2 linked regions of the Homo sapiens genome follow. Each later gene encodes a partner of the first gene's protein in a complex. Each region holds a gene or a part of one and is shown on either strand. Other genes may lie near its edges. A codon is read from its position in the direction of its gene.

Region 1 (9,217 bases):
ACATTATTTTCTTATGATCAATGTGTTCCTGCTTAGTACATCTTTGCTTTAACCAGATTTAAGAAATATGCATAATCTTGGTTATTGTAAGTCTTATTCTTTTTGTTCTTCCTATTCATGCCTCTTCCACTCCACTCTTCTGTGTCAAATTGTGACTTGACAGCCTTTCCTTCTACCGTTTATCTGTAGGATATTGGGAGTGTGTGGCATGCATCCTCATCATCAGGAAACTCTAAAAAAGAACCGAGTGGTGCTAGCCAAACAGCTGTTGTTGAGCGAATTGTTAGAACATCTTCTGGAGAAGGACATCATCACCTTGGAAATGAGGGAGCTCATCCAGGTATCTGGAGGCAAAAGAGAGAAGATAAATTGATCATGGGGTGGGAATAGAGCATGACAAAATATGGAAAGGGTGTCGTATCTTTCTTCCTTTTTTTTTTTTTTTTTTTTGAGACAGAGTCTCTGTCTCCCAGGCTGGAGTACAATGGCGCGATCTTGGCTCACTGCAGCCTCTGCCTCCCAGGTTCAAGTGATTCTCCTGCCTCAGCCTCCCAAGTAGCTGGGACTACAGGCAGGTGCCACCATGCCTGGCTAATTTTTTGGATTTTTAGTAGAGACAGGGTTTCACTGTGTTAGCCAGGAGGGTGTCGATCTCCTGACCTCATGATCCACCTGCCTCGGCCTCCCAAAGTGCTGGGATTACAGGTGTGAGCCACCACACCCAGCTGGATGTTGTACCTTTCTAAAGAAATGGAAATGCCCTTCTACCGTAGAGCATTTGAGAGAAATGATATATAACTCAAGAATAACAGAAAGGACTTCACCCATACATACACTTTTCCTGTAAAAAGAATTCTTGGATGAGGACACTACTAGGAAGCTCATGTGGAGAAATAGAATTATAGCTAGAGAAGTAAATATGATTTCATGTTTTATTCTTGTGTCTTAGGCCAAAGTGGGCAGTTTCAGCCAGAATGTGGAACTCCTCAACTTGCTGCCTAAGAGGGGTCCCCAAGCTTTTGATGCCTTCTGTGAAGCACTGAGGGAGACCAAGCAAGGCCACCTGGAGGATATGTTGCTCACCACCCTTTCTGGGCTTCAGCATGTACTCCCACCGGTATGAAGCTTTAGTAATATGGGGTGTTGGGAAGGGTTAGTTTGACTGGAAAGGAATTTGTAAGTCAGAGTGAGGGAGACTAGATTTTGTTGTATTTGGACCGGACCACTTCCCTAAGGTCTGTCATCATGAGTTTTGATTTCTTACAGTTGAGCTGTGACTACGACTTGAGTCTCCCTTTTCCGGTGTGTGAGTCCTGTCCCCTTTACAAGAAGCTCCGCCTGTCGACAGGTGAGAATTGATGGACTAAAAGGGGTCCCAGGCCAGGTGCCACGGCTTACGCCTATAATCCCAGCACTTTGCGGGGCCAAGGCGGGTGGATCACCTGAGGTCAGGAGTTCGAGACCAGCCTGGCCAACATGGTGAAACCCCGTCTCTACTAAAAATATAAAAACTAGCTGGGCATGGTGGTGGGTGCCTGTAATCCCAGCTACTCGGGAAGCTGGGGCAGGAGAATTGCTAGAACCCAGGAGACGGAGGTTGCAGTGAGCCAACACGGTGCCACCGCACTCCAGCCTTGCCAACAGAGTGAGACTCAGTCTCAAAAAATAAAATAAAATAAAATAAAAAGGAGGGGGGTGTCCCAGATTGACTTCCCCTTTCTTGTCTGGTATCTGGCTTTGTCCTAACATGAGCCCTTTTTTTTGTTTTTTTTTTTTTTTGTTGTGTTTTTTTTCAGAAATAGGGTCTTGTTCTGTCACCCAGGCTGGAATGCAGTGACACCACCATAGCTCACTGCAGCGTTGAACTCCTGGGTTGAAGGGCTCCTCCTGCCTCAGCCTCCCAAGTACCTGGGATTACAGGTGCATGCCACCACACCTAGCTCATTTTTAAATTTTTTGTAGAGAAGGAGTCTCACTTTGTTACCCAGGCTGGTGTCAAACTTCTGGCCTCAAATGATCCTTCCGCCTTGGCCTCCCAAAGTGCTGGGATTATAGGCGTAAGCCACCATGCCCAGCTGAGACATAGTTTATATTGGGAACAGTTGTCAGTAAATTTGTTAAGGGCTAGTAGGACAGTTTATGCAGGAGTTTGTGGTTTTTTGTTTTTTTTTTTTCTTGTGATGGAGTCTTGCTCTGTCGTCCAGGCTGTAGTGCAATGGTGCAGTCTCGGCTCACTGCAAACTCTGCCTCCTGGGTTCAAGTGATTCTCCTGCCTCAGCCTCCTGAGTAGCTAGGATTACAGGTGCGTGCCACCATACCCAGCTAATTTTTTGTGTTTTTAGTAAGAGATGGGGTTTCACCATCTCCTGACCTCGTGATCTGCCTGCCTCGGCCTCCCAAAGTGTTGGGATTACAGGCATGAGTCACTGCGCCCGGCCCAGGCAAGGTGTTATTAATAGTTGGTCCATTTCCCTTCCACCCCAGATAACAGTTTTTGTGATAATTGGGCCTTTGAGTAGCATGTATGGGCAGGAAGTTCATGCTCAATTGGCCTCTAAAAAGCTGAATAAGAAAAGACTACATTTGGGGCCACCAGCCTGCTGATGGAGCATCCTAGTGATTGGAACGAGGCTTTTATCAGCTAGCCCATTCGGTCATTCAGCCAGTTGAGCATATGCTTCATGCAGGCTATGTGCAGAGAATCCTTTAGTGAGCTAAAACTAAGAGTCTCTGCCCTCATGAAGCTTACAGGTTTGGGTAGTGAGTGAGACCAATATTTATCACAACCCAGTTGCAAGAGATGTCTGAAGTTACAATGACATATTAAGATTGATGGTTAAGTTATATACTAGTTTTTTGGTTTTCTGTCTATACCACAGATACTGTGGAACACTCCCTAGACAATAAAGATGGTCCTGTCTGCCTTCAGGTGAAGCCTTGCACTCCTGAATTTTATCAAACACACTTCCAGCTGGTGAGTTTTTGCATAATGACAAGAGGAAGAGAGTTGGGAAATTAGACACCCTTCCTGGGAACCTGAACTTAGTTTGCATGTACATTTCCTTTCTGCCTTATTAGTCAGAAAGTTGTTACTGGTTAAATGCCTTCTGTGAGCATTTGTCTATTTTTACCTGCTGGAGGTTAAGAAGAAAAATACGATGTCTTTGTTTTCTTGAAATGTCTAATCTAGCCGAGGAATCATCTGTTATCAAGACGCTCATGGTCTAACTGGCCTCTCCTCCACAGGCATATAGGTTGCAGTCTCGGCCTCGTGGCCTAGCACTGGTGTTGAGCAATGTGCACTTCACTGGAGAGAAAGAACTGGAATTTCGCTCTGGAGGGGATGTGGACCACAGTACTCTAGTCACCCTCTTCAAGCTTTTGGGCTATGACGTCCATGTTCTATGTGACCAGACTGCACAGGTACCTGAGGTGGGAAAAATTGACATGTAAATTAGAGGACTGAACAACACTTTGGGACCAGAGACATCGTTTGTTCCTGTGCCTGCTGGGATATGTCTTAAAAGTTGGTTTATTCTACTTACATTTTTACTCACTCTGTTCTGCCTCTCACCTTGCATTCTAGTAAGAAAGAATTAGGGCCGGCCAGCCATTTTAGTGTTGACATCTCAGGTTGTGGTTTCATAAAGTAATAATAGTCCACAGTTGGTGTCTCACTTTTTTTTTTTTTTTTAAAGACAGAGTTTAGCTCTGTCACCCAGGCTGGAGTGCAATGGCACGATCTCGGCTCACTGCAACCTCTGCCTACCAGGTTCAAGCGATTCTCCTGCCTCAGCTTCCTGAGTAGCTGGAACTGCAGGCGCATGCAACCATACCTGGCTTATTGTTGTATTTTTAGTAGAGACGGGGTTTTGCCATGTTGGCCAGGCTGGTCTCAAACTCCTGACCTCAGGTGATCCGTCCCCCTCGGCCTCCCAAAGTGCTGGGATTATAGGCATGAGCTACGGCACCTGGCTGGGAAAGTATTCTTAACATTTGTGTAATCACAAGTCATAGGGTAGATTGTTTGTGGACCAGATTTCTAGAAATTGTAAACATTTTCATTATGGGCTGTTCGTCATTAACCTCAGTTACTGTACTGCACAACTGACTTTGTGACCTTTAGGGTTTCTATTTTGCAATCAATAATGGCCTATTTGTAGATTCATATTCACTCTTTATTTTGATTCCAGAATAGTAGAACTTTCTTCAACTTGCTTTGAGGTTGTCAGTGGTGAAATTAAAATTGCTAGGAGATTCACTTTGATCTGTTGGGATAGAGGATCTTTGTTTTCCATTCAGCATTGTCTGTAGTCTTCATTTCTCTTTCTTAGCTGCCCTCCTTCTGTGAGAGTAATTATGTATTTACTATATTTTTGGCAAGGCCAGTTTCATCCACAGGTACCTGGGTGTTGTCCTTTACATGCTATTTTTGCCAGCTTCCCCCTTGTAGCATATGCAATGTAGTTAAATCCACCCTTGCTTCAAAGCCATGGCAGCAACAGCTGCTTCAGTCATCAAGTATTCAGGTAGTTTATATGCTTTCCTGAGAAGTCTGCTGGGCATAAAGGGGCAAAGGGCAGGGTACCAGCCATAATTCCTACAGAAGGTCACTTAACAAAATGTGCAGTGTGTGTGTTTTCTTAGAGGTTTTGGTCTAGCCATGTCTTTTACTAGAAATCTATTATGTCATGGTTTTTCAAGTTGTATGCAGCTGATAAAGGATCTTACATGTCTAATAGTTAAAGATAAAATACTGAGTCACTAAGTCAACTATATATACTGCTGTTTTCTCAGAGACTGTCAGATTTGGTGAGTTTATGAGCTCACTTCATAAATAGCATTTCCATTTATGGTAAGCCTGATGCATATTCAGTGACCTATTGGATTCTAATTCTTTGGTTGAATTGCTCTGTAACTGGAATTGCAGTAGAGTTGAACTTCAAGCACCTTATAATGGGGGACTATGTGAGCTGCCACAGATTTTAAAGATCAGATGAGGGAGTTTTGACATCAGCATAAAAGGAAGTGTGTCCTCTTATATTCCTAACGACCAAACAAGATTAGAGAAAAAATCTTCTGTCATAGCTAAGAAGAAGAAGCGCCTAGGTAGATATGATCAGAAGGATAAGTGGAGGAGGCAGAACTTAAGCTGGCCTTGAAGGATAGAAGTTACTGAAGCAGAGAGGAGTGGTGAAGCCACCCTAGGCAGGGAGAACAGTATGTGGACAAGAAATGTGTGTGTTATAAACCAGGTAGTTGCAATGGGTGTCATAATTTGGTACACTGGGCATCTGCACAGAATGCTCTCTTCCTGGTGGGATCTCCCTAGAGAGTCAACTCGTTTATCATATAGCTATTTGGCAAGCAAAGAAACAGAACCAAAAAAAAAAAAAAGATCCTTTTTTCTTTCCCTATCAAATCTTTCTTACTTAAGAGAGGAATTCCATTTAAAAACAGGAAATAGTATAATTAGTCTTAGAGACTCCTCTTCCCCTGATAGTGCTGCAGTGAACATGGGTATTCTCACTGCCCAGATGTTTTCACTTTTCTCTTTGTTATTAAGTTTTTATTGCATCTACTTCATGAGGTTACTAGTTCTAGAATTATGATTTACCCTATGTTAGGAAACGTACTCTTCAAAGTGGAAATTTCCTTTTACCATGTGGTATTGTTTTTTTAGCTTGCATTTGGGTCACAAACTGCTTTGAAAATGTAAGGACAAGCTATGGGTTATCCCTGGAAAATGCAGCTGCCCATATAATTTAGCATATAATTTCAGAGGGTTCACAAGTTACTCTCTTCACATGTCCCCCAACCCCTAGCCAAAAATACACTTAGGAGTTAAGAACCCTGCTATTTATAGAAGTACTGTAATTTTATCAAAAACAAATCTGCAGATCCTATTTTAAGCTATGCTACTTGTAGAAAAATTCCTCCAAATGTCTAATCCCCATTTATTGAATGGTTTAGTCTTACTAAGTTTGGTTACAAAGTGCGTGTATTCTTTTTTTGGACATTGTTTTCTATTTACTGACCTAATCTCACTAAATTCAAAATGCTCGTGATTCGGTGCCCAGGTATATAATTTTTGTTTTCTTTTTTTTTATTTTGAGATGGAGTTTCACTTTTGTTGCCCAGGCTAGAGTGCAATGGCGCGATCTGGGCTCATTGCAACCTCTGCCTCCCAGGTTCAAGCAATTCTCCTGTCTCAGCCTCCTGAGTAGCTGGGATTACAGGCGCATGCCACCACGCCCGGCTAATTTTTGTATTTTTAGTAGAGACAGGGTTTCATCACATTGGTCAGGCTGGTCTCAAACTCCTGACCTCAGGTGATCCACCCGCCTCGGCCTCCCGAAGTGCTGGGATTACAGGCGTGAGCCACCGCGCCCGGCCTTTGTTTTCTTCTTTGAGCAAAATTAACTTCTTTAACTATTAAATGTTAAATTCTATTAGCATCAGCTCCAGAGGAACATTCACAGTTATGTATTCTCTTGAAATTATATATTCTTGAAAGAATTTTTTGATTATCTGTCATTACCTTAAGATTTCTATTATTATGGTTTGCTTCTACTTAGAAAATACAGATACTTTTCAACAACACCAGTCTCTTTATTTCTAGTTATATTGCAGACTTTCAAATATTTTATGTAATTGCATCTCAATTATCTACAAACAGAAGTATTCCGAACAGATCAATTAGTAGCTCTCAAACTTTAACATATCACAGTGTCCTGGAGGGCTTGTTAAAACACATTTTGCTGGAGCCCAAGATTTCACGTTTCTTCCAAGTTCCTGGGTGATGCTGCTGTTGCTGCTTTAGGGGCCACTCTGAGAACTACTGCAATATGTTATATTATAGAAGTGTGCTTTTTATTTTGGCAGTGTGTGTGATTAAATATATGTGTGTTTTAACTCTTCCACCCAGATAACTTACTTATTTTCATTACATTTTATTCAAGTTTATAATAAAATGAACTTGTTTTCTTTCTGCCCATCTCAGAAGACCCAGACATCGTGAATTATAGAGGGAGGCATAGGTTTAAACATGTGTGCCCAATTATTATGCTCTTTAGGTACACAGTATAACCTTCTGATGGATGGACCAAATGCTTAAGGTAGTGCTCTTCATGTATCGCAACTTAGTGCAAGATAAACAAGATTCTCCAGGCATGGTGGCACATGCCTATGGTCCCAGCTACTCTAGAGGCTGAGGCAAGAAGATTCCTTGAGCCCAGGAGTTCTAGGCTGTAGTGTGCTATGCTGATCAGGTGTCCAAACTAAGTTCATCATCAATATGGTAACCTCCTGGGAGTGGCGGACCACCAGGTTGCCTAAGGAGGGGTGTACCAGCCCAGGTCAGAAATGGAGCAGGTGAAAACTCCTGTGCTGATCAGTAGTGATCTTACACCTGTAAATAGTCACTGCACTCAAGCCTGGGCAATATAGCAAGATCCTGTCTAAAAAAAAAAAAGATAAACAGGAAAACAGTTCTTAAGTTGGACTACAACATTGACCAGTAATAGATTTCTTTGAGAAAAATACTCTTTATTCGACATGCACATTGTAATGGCACATTTTTTGCAATGTGTCCCAGACACAGTGATCGGTTTTTGGTTTTTTTTTTGAGACAGGGTCTCTCTCTGTCACCCAGGCTACAGTGCAGTGGTGCAGTCACAGCTCACTGCAGCCTCAACTTCCTAGGCTCCAGTGATCCCTCCACCGTAGCCTTTAGAGTAGCTGGGACTATAAGCATGCACCACCATGCCTGGCTAATTTTTTTTTTTAAAGATGGAGTCTTGCTAGGTTGTCCAGGCCAAGTCCTTTGTCATAATATCTCATTTTTATCTTCACAAACTTAGAGAAAATATCCTCATAATTTTTTTTTATAAAGTGAAAAGTGAGGTCTCAAGGGTCTGAGTAAGCTGTTCCAACTCATGAAGCCAAGGTTCAAACCTAGATTAATCTGAACCCAGGACCTGTGTATGTAATTACTGCCCTGTACAGAATCCTCCTTCATAGCGTGCTCTTTCTGAAACAAAGCATTTTATACAGTCATCATCATTATCTCTTGGACACTTAGAATCTTAGAAGACAACATACAAGTATTGCTATTCTCTACTATCATGATGCTGTCACAGAACAGTTTATTTTCGTGTAGCTGAATGTGCATGTTACTTATTCATAGCTACACTTTGAGTCACCCTTGTGCCATTTATATACAAGGGCAGTTGCTCTAATGAAGGATCTGGTTATGAACAGGGAATTAATCAGAGTTGACCAGCTCATGATTAGCTTCTTTAGTAACTTGCTTTAATCCAGGAGCTGTTTGCCTATCTCAGTGAGTCTGAATCTGTATTCAGAATATTGTGTCTGAACTCATATGCATTTTTCTGGTGAGTCCATAGCTTTCTTTAGTCTCTCAAAAGGTCTCTTCTTTTATCATTGACCACAGGAATATACATAAAGCGTTTTATCTTCTAATAGCTTAGGGTTTCAAAAAGAAACCAAACTTTGATGCTTATGTTGGTGCTGACCTTAGTGCACAACACTAAACATTCCTTTCTTTTAGGAAATGCAAGAGAAACTGCAGAATTTTGCACAGTTACCTGCACACCGAGTCACGGACTCCTGCATCGTGGCACTCCTCTCGCATGGTGTGGAGGGCGCCATCTATGGTGTGGATGGGAAACTGCTCCAGGTGCGGATACCCTGGTGGAAGCCAACTGTTGAAACCAGGCTGCTTTACCTCCTGCCTGCTGTCTGTCAAGTGATGGCTACTGTTGCATGTGTAGGACTTAGGAGGCCCCGCTGAATGCTTAACCTCTCTTCTTCCTTCTTTCTTTCTGGCAGCTCCAAGAGGTTTTTCAGCTCTTTGACAACGCCAACTGCCCAAGCCTACAGAACAAACCAAAAATGTTCTTCATCCAGGCCTGCCGTGGAGGTGAGTGCCCTAGCAGACCAGCACCTGGGTGGTGGCTCCTGGGCAGCCTCCCACCAGCTCTCACTTTCCTGTTTGCTCCTCTCAGGTGCTATTGGATCCCTTGGGCACCTCCTTCTGTTCACTGCTGCCACCGCCTCTCTTGCTCTGTAAGTGTCTCCCAATGCATGGGGTGTGCTGGGACTTGGGCAGCCCATGGCTCTCAGGCTGGTCAGCTCTCCGTGCACCACCATATCCTGTTTTCAGGTCTCTTATCCCGTGTCTTTGCCTTCCTTT
Region 2 (9,217 bases), about 67 Mb from region 1:
ACCCCCTGCCCCACACAAGCACAGCCTTCTTCCCTCAGCAGCCCCCACCAGAGGGGTACACTTAAACTGCAATTAATGAAACATTATCACCCAAGGTCCACAGTTTACAGTAGAGCTCACTCTTGGTGATCTACATTCTGTGGAGTTGGACAAGTTTATAGAGGCATGTAGCCACCACCTGAATATCACACAGTGTAGTTTCATTGCCCTGAAAGTCCTGTGTGCTCTGCCTGTTCATCTCTCCTGGCTTATTTTTTGGATGTAAACTTCAGTTCTTTGTAGAGATTTTCAGTTTTATTAAATCAATGTGTTGGGTGAGGTGGTGCATGCCTGTAGTTCCAGGTTGAGGCAGGAGGATTGATTGCTTGAGCCCCGAGGAGTTATTTAAGAAGATTAAAAATGCAAAGTTGCATTCATAACTTTTTTTTGGGGGGTGTGGTGGGGGTGCGGACAGATCGCTCTGTTGCCCAGGCTGGAGTGCAGTGGCTCCATCTCGTCTCACTGTAACCTCCACCTCTCAGGTTCAGGTGATTCCCCTGCCTCAGCCTCCTGAGTAGCTGGGATTACAGGCATGCACACCACACCCAGCTCATTTTTGTATTTTTAGTAGAGACAGGGTTTCGCCATGTTGGCCAGGCTGGTCTCAAACTACTGACCTCAAGTGATCCACCCACCTTGGCCTCCCAAAGTGCTGGGATTACAGAGGTGAGCGGCTGTGTCTGGTCCCTACCATTACAATGTAAGGTTCTTGGTAGATAAGGAAATTGTGAATGACCTGGTACTCCATGGCTTAAGGTCAGAAAGTCATCTAAGTAGCTTTCCAAGAATTTCAAGAGTTGCTAATCTTAGGTAGAAAAGGTTTCTCTCCTCATCAACTCTTAGGGGAAAATAGTTGACACTAATTAACATCTGATTCCTTAGCAGCTGGGATTTGGGGAGTTCTACTTTTTAAACTGTTGGTGAGAATAACATAGATTTTTCTAACCATTTTACCTACAGCTATCTTTAACATCTTTTAAGTCACCAAAAGAAATTTGAGGCCGGGCGCGGTGGCTCACGCCTGTAATCCCAGCACTTTGGGAGGCCGAGGCGGGCGGATCACAAGGTCAGGAGATCAAGACCATCCTGGCCAACATGATGAAACCCCGTCTCTATTAAAAGTACAAAAATTAGCTGGGCGTAGTGGCACACGCCTGTAATCCCAGGTACTCGGGAGGCTGAGGCAGGAGAATCGCTTGAACCCAGGAGGCAGAGGTTGCAGTGAGCCGGGATTGTGCCACTGCACTCCAGCCTGGTGACAGAGTGGGACTCCATCTCAAAAAAAATAAATAAAATAAAAATAAGAAATTTGAACTTGAGCTTGTAGTAGTAGAGAAGGCAGAAACTTTGTTTTTAAGCAGAACATACAACTCTGGGGAATAAAAACTGAAACTTTCTACATTTTCCAACAGCCATGACAGTAAATTTTGGGGACCATGTTTACAAGTGTTGCATTCGTAGAAACAATTTATTAACCAGGGTGTGATGGGAGGCTGAGGTGGGAGGATCACCTGAGCCTGAGAAGTTGAGGCTGCAGTGAGCTGTGATCACGCCATTTCTCTCCAGCCTGGGCAACAGAGTGAGACCCCATTTCTTTTCTTTTCTTTCTTTCTTTCTTTTTTTTTTTAAAGAAGAAGAAGGTTAGGCAGAATGGCTCATGTTTGTAATCCCAGAACTTTAGGAGGCCAAGGCTGGAGGATCACTTGTGCTCAGGAGTTCGAAACCAGCCTGGACAACATAGGGTGACCCTGGTCCCTACAAAAAATACAAAAATTAGGGGGCGTGGTGGTAGATGCCTGTAGTCCCAGCTTCTCTGGAGGCTGAGGCAGAGGAGTTTGTGGCGTGGCTGCAGTGAGCTGTGATTGCACCACTGTACTCCAGCCAGGGCAACAGAGTGAGACCCTGTCTCTGTTTAAACAACAACAACAAATTTAATGACTGTTTTGAAAAATGTTACCTCCCTTCCCAAATGATACAAGATCCCGTATCTTCCCACATTGAATAGTCATTCTGTCATTCTGTCTTGATTAAATCATTTTAGACACTATTAGAATAACTTGTTCTTTTAAGAGGTTATCTGTTGACCTTTAAAACTAATATGGTGGGGATCTCTTATTTTAATTTAAAAATAACAGATTCTTATGCAAGTAATTATGATCTAAAGGATAAAGGATTTTTAAAAATTTTGATTTAAGGTGTTCAGAACAACTTTTCTTTAGACTTTTTAGAGCTGAAGGGTTTCCCCTCTAACTTAGTTTTTCACTGGCAGGGAACATCTGGGCGTGTTCCAAATGTGGTCGAGCTACTGTATCCAAAGGTGATCCTGGCATTTCATAATCTCCTTGTTCCAATGTGTCTGGGGACAGCTAGGCAGACTTTACATAAGTACAGATTGCCTCTCTGGGCACTGCTGGGAGACTTCATTTGTGGCAGGAGGAGTGCCCCCAGGACTGGTGAGATAATTTGAGCTTTAAATAGCTCCTGGCCCTTGAAATAAGGACAACATGATTTAGGGGAAAGGCCAGAACTTGATCTTTGTGGCCTTCGGCACGCTGGCCTCTCCTTGCACTGGAGGCAGTCATGAGGGCTGCACCGCGGGGCGGTTTGTCTTCAGCATTCGCACACTCAGTAAAGTATGCCAGAGATGGGTGGCAGCAGCGCCCAAGGGCTCAGCTCCTTCCAAAGCCAAGTCTGGGCAGTTTTTTTTCAGGCTGTATGGAACTAGGGTTTATGGAAAGGAAGCGATGTGAGGCAGCTAAGGCAGTTTCCGCTTAATATAGAGAAGAGGATGAAACGGAGAAGAGACACTCGATACAGGAAGATGAGCTGGGAGATCGTTAGGAAATGTAGACATCCCCTGTGGTGAGAACTAAAATGAAGGAAAATTATTCAGGGTATTCTTAAAAGTAGTTCCTCATGTTTCTGTAGCATTTTACTTTTTCAAGAAGACTTTGCTGGGCACAATGGCTGTCACCTGTAATCCCAGCACTCTGAGCGGCCAAGGTGGGAGGATCACTTGAACTAAGGGTTCAAGACCAGCCTGGGCAACATAGTGAGACCTTGTCTCTACTAAAAATTTTTAAATGGCTGGATGCAGTGGCTCACACCTGTAATCCTAACACTTTGGGAGGCTAAGGTGGGTGGATCACTTGAGGCCAGGAGTTCAAGGCCAGCCTGGGCAACATGGCAAGACCTTGTCTCTACAGAAAAATACAAAAATTAGCTGGGTGTGGTGGCATGTGCCTTAGTCCCAGCCACTCAGGAGGCTAAGGTAGGATTGCTTGAAGCCCTGGGAGGCTGAGGTTGCAGTGAGCCAAGATAGTGCCACTGCACTTCCAGCGGATTGATATAGTGAGACCCCATCTCTAAATAAAGAAATAAATAAATCAGCCATAGACTGAGGCGGGTGGATCACTTGAGGCCAGGAGTTTGAGACCATCCTGGCCAACATGGCAAAACGCTGTCTCTACTAAAAATACAAAAACTAGCCAGGCATGGTGGCACACGCCTGTAATCCCAGCTACTCGGGAGGCTGAGGCAGGAGAATCGCTTGAACTTGGGGGGAGGTTGCAGTGAGCCGACATCATGCCATTGCACTCCAGCCTGGGCAACAGAGTGAGACCAGGTCTTTTTGAAACTCTGTCTCCAAAAAAAAAAAAAAAAGAAATCAGCCATGCATGGTGGTGCACACCTGTAGTCCCAGGTACTCTGGAGATTGAGGTGGGAGGATTGCTTGAGCCCAGTAGTTTGAGGCTGCAGTGAGGTGTGATCATGCCTCTGCACTTCAGCTTGGGAAACAGAGTAAGACCATGTCTCAAAAAGAACAAAAAAAGACTTTCTTATTTGTCTGATATACCTGTATATTACCTTATGAAAGAAGCAGAAATCCCCATTTTGCAGATAAGAAAACCAAAGCCCAGAGAAATGAAGCGGCTTGTCCCCAAGATTGCTTAGCGAATGATGGAGCTGGGAAAAGCCCAATCTTCCGTTATTTGTGGACACATCAGAATTCAGCATGAGTGACAGCGGTCTGCTGGATGACAGATCGTCAGTGCAGAATGAGACACGAGGTGCCTGTGTTTATTCATGCAGGAGGAGTGTTTGCAGAAGTGCCGGGAACAAGAGGTGGTGGAGCAAAGCATCTCTTTCCTGGTTTCCTTCTGCTCTGAACTCAAGTAGTACCCACCCCCTATTCTTCCCCTCTTTTGAGTCTGTTTCACTGAGGGCACGGCTGGTAGGAGTAACGTTGTCCAGCATTAAAACAGAGCATCAGTAATGTCTAGGAAAATGTTAACTTTAACAACACCACTAATCAGTTTAGAGAATATTTGAGCGTGTAGCACTTGCTGATCATTCATTCAGAAAATGAATTGCCTGCCATAAACTAATAAGCATGATTTGGTTTATGTTTTGATTTAATTATCTCTGAGTAGATGCTGCTTGAAGTAATGACTGTAATCACTTTTGCCAAGCATACCCCCCGTTTATAATTTAAGAAAAAAAATTTTTTTTTTTTTGAGATGGGGCCTTGTTATGTTGGCCAGGCTGGTCTTGAACTCCTGGCCTCAAGCAGTCCTCCCCACCTGGTGTCTCAAAGCACTGGGATTACAGGCATGGGCCAACATACTGAACATAATGATTCAAACATAGAAAAAAAAGTCTCCTGGTAGTTCAGTTCCCCCATGCCCCAGGAGTTTAGTACAGGGGTGTCCAGTCTTTTGGCTTCCCTGGGCCACATTCCCTTGGGCCACACATAAAATACACTAACACTAACAATAGTTGATGAGCTAAAAAAAAAAAAAAAATCGCAAAAAGAATTCTCAGTGTTTTAATAGAGTTTACGAATTTGTGTTGGGCTGCATTCAAAGCCATCCTGGGCTACATGCAGCCTGTGGGCCACAGGTTGGATAAGCTTGGTTTAGTAGATCTTTTTGGATTCTAGGTCCCTACCTGTCGTCTCTGTATGTAATATAATGTTATACAGATGCTGCAGTTGATCAACACGGAACAATGGGGACTCAAGGGACAGGGAGTAACCACTTTTCTTCTCTCCTCTCCTCTCCTCTCCCCATCCCCAGCCAGTTGGCATGTGCTGGTAGTCCCAGCTCCTCGGTAGGCAGAGGTGGGAGAATCATCTGAGCCTGGGGAGGTTGAGGCTGCAGTGATCTGTGATCCTGCTGCTGCACTCCAGGCTGGGCAATAGAATGAGACCCTGTGTCAAATATAATAATAATAATAATGTATTTCATATGGTTGTCAAGTAATGTAATAGTATATGACTCTGATACTATAGAAACCAGGTAAATAAATTTAGTATTATTGGCTGATATTAATAAGCAGTTATTTGTAGTCATAAAAATATACAACATTGGTTTGAGATGCCACTTTAGTCTTCTGAAAGTGATTAGCCTTGGGGGTGATGAGGGCGGGAGCCTTGAGAAATGGCCATCTTGGGAGAAGCATTGATTCCTGTTGCCCAGCTAGAGGCGCTGTGCTCGCCTCGTTCTTTTGTATTGCTGGTTGTAAAGTTGTATTCAGTCAGACACTCCCACTGCCACAAATAACATGTTCCCTGGGTTGCTAAAGTATCACAGCGATCAGACTCAATCCTATGCCCCTTATTTGGACTCCCTGAGGTTTAGAATTCACATGGTGTTGGCATATGAGCAGAAAGGCCTCCATGTTTCTCAGAAGTCAGCTTGAAGTTGACTCAGTATTTTCTTATCCAGAAGAGATGGGACTGAAGTTTAGTAGACAGGGCAGGATTAGGAGGAATTTGTCAGTCCGTTTTCCTAAAAAACCACTGAGTTAGACCATCTGTACTCATAGTCTCTCATCTAAGGCCTAGACTTGACAGTGTTTTGTGGAACACACGTGATAAGCCTGTGTCCTTTTCTGGGGAGGAAGCCAGGGTTCAGACACCGTTGATCCATTGATCCAGCCGCACTTTTCCCTCCCTTGTGTGTGCTCCACCTCCAGCCCCCTTCCCCCAGCCCACACAAAGTAATTTCCTTCTGTTCATCATGTTACTCAACAGAGCTCTGTTCTAGTGTCTCAAAGATACAGTTAACCCAGTGGACACCATCTGTACCATAACAACTCTGTTCTTTCCTCCTGGCAGGTGACAGAGCTGAATGAGCCACTGTCGAATGAGGAACGAAACCTTCTGTCTGTGGCCTACAAGAACGTTGTGGGGGCACGCCGCTCTTCCTGGAGGGTCATCAGTAGCATTGAGCAGAAGACATCTGCAGACGGCAATGAGAAGAAGATTGAGATGGTCCGTGCGTACCGGGAGAAGATAGAGAAGGAGTTGGAGGCTGTGTGCCAGGATGTGCTGAGCCTGCTGGATAACTACCTGATCAAGAATTGCAGCGAGACCCAGTACGAGAGCAAAGTGTTCTACCTGAAGATGAAAGGGGACTACTACCGCTACCTGGCTGAAGTGGCCACCGGAGAGAAAAGGGCGACGGTGGTGGAGTCCTCCGAGAAGGCCTACAGCGAAGCCCACGAGATCAGCAAAGAGCACATGCAGCCCACCCACCCCATCCGATTAGGCCTGGCTCTTAACTACTCCGTCTTCTACTATGAGATCCAGAACGCCCCAGAGCAAGCGTGCCACTTGGCCAAGACCGCGTTCGACGACGCCATCGCCGAGCTTGACACCCTCAACGAGGACTCCTACAAGGACTCCACGCTCATCATGCAGCTCCTCCGCGACAACCTCACGCTCTGGACGAGCGACCAGCAGGACGACGATGGCGGCGAAGGCAACAATTAAGGCCCCAGGGGAACTGGCAGCGCACGCGGATGCTACTACTGCAGTCTTTATTTTTTTCCCATGAGTTGGGGGTCGGGTGGGGGAGGGAAAGGGAGGGATGACCTTCCCAGGGAGAAACCCACGACCTGTCCTGTCTTTGATCGCCTCTTTGACATTTTTGCCAAAATACCACTAGTGGAAAGTCAGGCTAGCTGTGCTGGTATTGGAATAGCAGCCTCACACTGGCGTCTGGACTGTTCTGTAGATTCATGCAAGTGGAGCTGTCTGTCTCTAATTTAACTTATTGCTAGATAATAGGGTTTTCAGATGAAAAGAAAACTTAAAGAGGAATGGCCCTCATTCAGTAAGTTCTGTGGTTCCAGTAAGGATTTTTATGTACATACGCTCTCGTCTCTCGTTTTGGGTACTTTCTATCTCATCTGTCTCGGCTCTGCATGTTTTCCAGGGTGTAGCCTACAGACATGGAACAGTGTAAATCCCAGACTGACAGACTTAGAACCTGAGGTCTCATTCATCCTTATGGTTTAGGCCTTGCCAGTTTTCCGAAGTCTCTGATTAGTTGACAGTATTAACACTAAATTGCAGTTTACAGTATTTCTACATTACAGCCATATGTAACATCAAGCCATCGATTGTGTACTTTTCCTTTGCTAGTTGTTTGGGCTTTAACATCCTTATTCAGCCTTATCCAGGTTGGTTTTGCTGTTGATCGGTCTCCTAGGCTAAATGAGAATGAAAGCGACTTCAGGTCAGGTGGCTGTGGGATTTTTTTTTTTTGGTCCTTCTTTCCTCTTAACGTAAATCCACCACCAAAATTATTAATCCTCTTGAGAGAAACGTGAAACGCCACAAAAATAGAGAAAATTCAGGTCTGTATGTCATGGATCGTGTTGGTATTTTCAGAGAACATCCCGCTTCTGAAGCTGCTGCAGCTCCCTCCTCAGGGATCACACTGCCGTCACCCACTCTGCACTGGGGCGTTTCCTACTGCGCCTCGTGCTGGCGGACGCAGCTGGGTGCAGAAGCTGTGGGGTCGGAGAGGCGTTTGGAGAAGGTCTGTGGTGCAGTGTGTGAAAATTCAGGTGCTAGAAGCCTACTGGTAGAAAAACCCAAAAGGAAGAGCTATATCCTTAACCATTCTGTCCAATTTCGGGAGCCTTGTCAGTGTGTCAGTTTTTCCTCCCCGAAGACACTCCTTCCCCAAGTAATTGTAGGAAGATAAAAAAACTGTTACCAGATAACAAACACTGAACTCCTATTTGACCAGAACTTTTTCCTCTCGAGATAGTTTTTTCTTTTTAATGAAAAAAGCATAGGAATTGGAGATTGGCTTGTCTCACGCAGCCAGTGCACATTTGGAATTGACGGAAACAACGTTGCTATTTCCACCCATTTGTTTTCGGCAGCCTTAAGGCCCTCATTCTCATTTCGGGTGAATCTGTCTATCTGTGAACGTGGCCCGCATGTGCATTCTTTTTTTTATATATATAAAGTCAGTGACGAGGAACTCCCGAGACGTGTAATGACACCACACTTGTTTTCTTTGTTTCTTTGTTTTATTTAGGCAAGAAGAGGTGTGAGTAATTGAGGAAAAACTGACAGATGCTTTTGCTAATACCAAAATTGAGCTTACAATTAGGAACTGAGTATGTGTAACAGGATACAGGTGACAGTGAAGATAGAAGAACCACGATGACCACAGACTCAATGTGCTCTGTAACATCGCACAGTTTACCCAGCATGACTTTCCTTAGGAGGCCCCCTCCTCACGCTAGAGTAAAAGTCCCAGTTAAGTGAAGCCTACCAGAAGAACTAGTAGAAGAAGCTTTGCCGCTTTTGTGCCTCTCACAGGCGCCTAAAGTCATTGCCATGGGAGGAAGACGATTTGGGGGGGGAGGGGGGGGGGGGCAGGGTAGGTGGGGCTTTCCCTAATTTATCTTCATGTCCAGTGAGCAGTGTTGCGTTTTTCCTTGTAGCATTTGGAAATGATTTACTGGAATTACAAAACCTATTTTTCCTTTAAATTTCAGCTTTGGCTCTGGCTGCTTTTTAGAATAATGCAAGATAAAAATCACACCTGAGGGCTGAAAACGGAGAGGGAATGGGAGACTTGATATTTAAGCAGCTTGAATGGTTTTTCTTTTCTTTATTTTTAAAGAAATGCACTTGCCTATGATACTGTCTCTCCAGTGAAATGATTACTCCTCCATTACTCTATTGATACAATATTGTGCATGCTAGTGTTGTATTTCTATACAGTAGCTTGAAATTGATTAACTTATACTGTAGGTGTTATGTATTCCTATGACAAAAAAAATTAAGTCTTCAAATTTTTTAAAGGTTTTTTTTTTTTAATTTAATTTTTCCTTTTGGGGGTAAAGTTTGCTCTACCAAATAGTG

Evidence for each region.
Region 2: the proteins of CASP2 (region 1) and YWHAG are in contact, whole or in part, in a crystal structure (PDB 6S9K), measured with the Homo sapiens proteins. Residues at the interface, in NP_116764.2 of Homo sapiens: Asp137 (codon at 1,282), Leu138 (codon at 1,285), Ser139 (codon at 1,288), Leu140 (codon at 1,291), Pro141 (codon at 1,294), Phe142 (codon at 1,297), Pro143 (codon at 1,300), Val144 (codon at 1,303), Cys145 (codon at 1,306), Glu146 (codon at 1,309), Leu150 (codon at 1,321), Lys152 (codon at 1,327), Lys153 (codon at 1,330), Leu154 (codon at 1,333), Ser157 (codon at 1,342); in NP_036611.2 of Homo sapiens: Glu15, Asn43 (codon at 6,200), Val47 (codon at 6,212), Arg57 (codon at 6,242), Arg61 (codon at 6,254), Lys125 (codon at 6,446), Arg132 (codon at 6,467), Tyr133 (codon at 6,470), Pro170 (codon at 6,581), Gly174 (codon at 6,593), Leu177 (codon at 6,602), Asn178 (codon at 6,605), Val181 (codon at 6,614), Glu185 (codon at 6,626), Glu213 (codon at 6,710), Asp214 (codon at 6,713), Lys217 (codon at 6,722), Asp218 (codon at 6,725), Leu221 (codon at 6,734), Ile222 (codon at 6,737), Leu225 (codon at 6,746), Asn229 (codon at 6,758), Leu232 (codon at 6,767), Trp233 (codon at 6,770).

The regions. Positions count from the first base shown.
Region 1 is NC_000007.14:143,291,351-143,300,567, forward strand, and holds part of CASP2 (caspase-2 isoform 1 preproprotein), read left to right. Parts: intron 1-189; coding exon 190-340; intron 341-949; coding exon 950-1,117; intron 1,118-1,266; coding exon 1,267-1,348; intron 1,349-2,879; coding exon 2,880-2,974; intron 2,975-3,246; coding exon 3,247-3,423; intron 3,424-7,166; exon of another isoform or gene 7,167-7,462; intron 7,463-8,572; coding exon 8,573-8,701; intron 8,702-8,853; coding exon 8,854-8,944; intron 8,945-9,029; coding exon of another isoform or gene 9,030-9,090; intron 9,091-9,217. UniProt on the Homo sapiens protein: Is a regulator of the cascade of caspases responsible for apoptosis execution. Might function by either activating some proteins required for cell death or inactivating proteins necessary for cell survival.
Region 2 is NC_000007.14:76,327,177-76,336,393, reverse strand, and holds part of YWHAG (14-3-3 protein gamma), read left to right. Parts: intron 1-6,160; coding exon 6,161-6,817; 3' UTR 6,818-9,217. UniProt on the Homo sapiens protein: Adapter protein implicated in the regulation of a large spectrum of both general and specialized signaling pathways. Binds to a large number of partners, usually by recognition of a phosphoserine or phosphothreonine motif.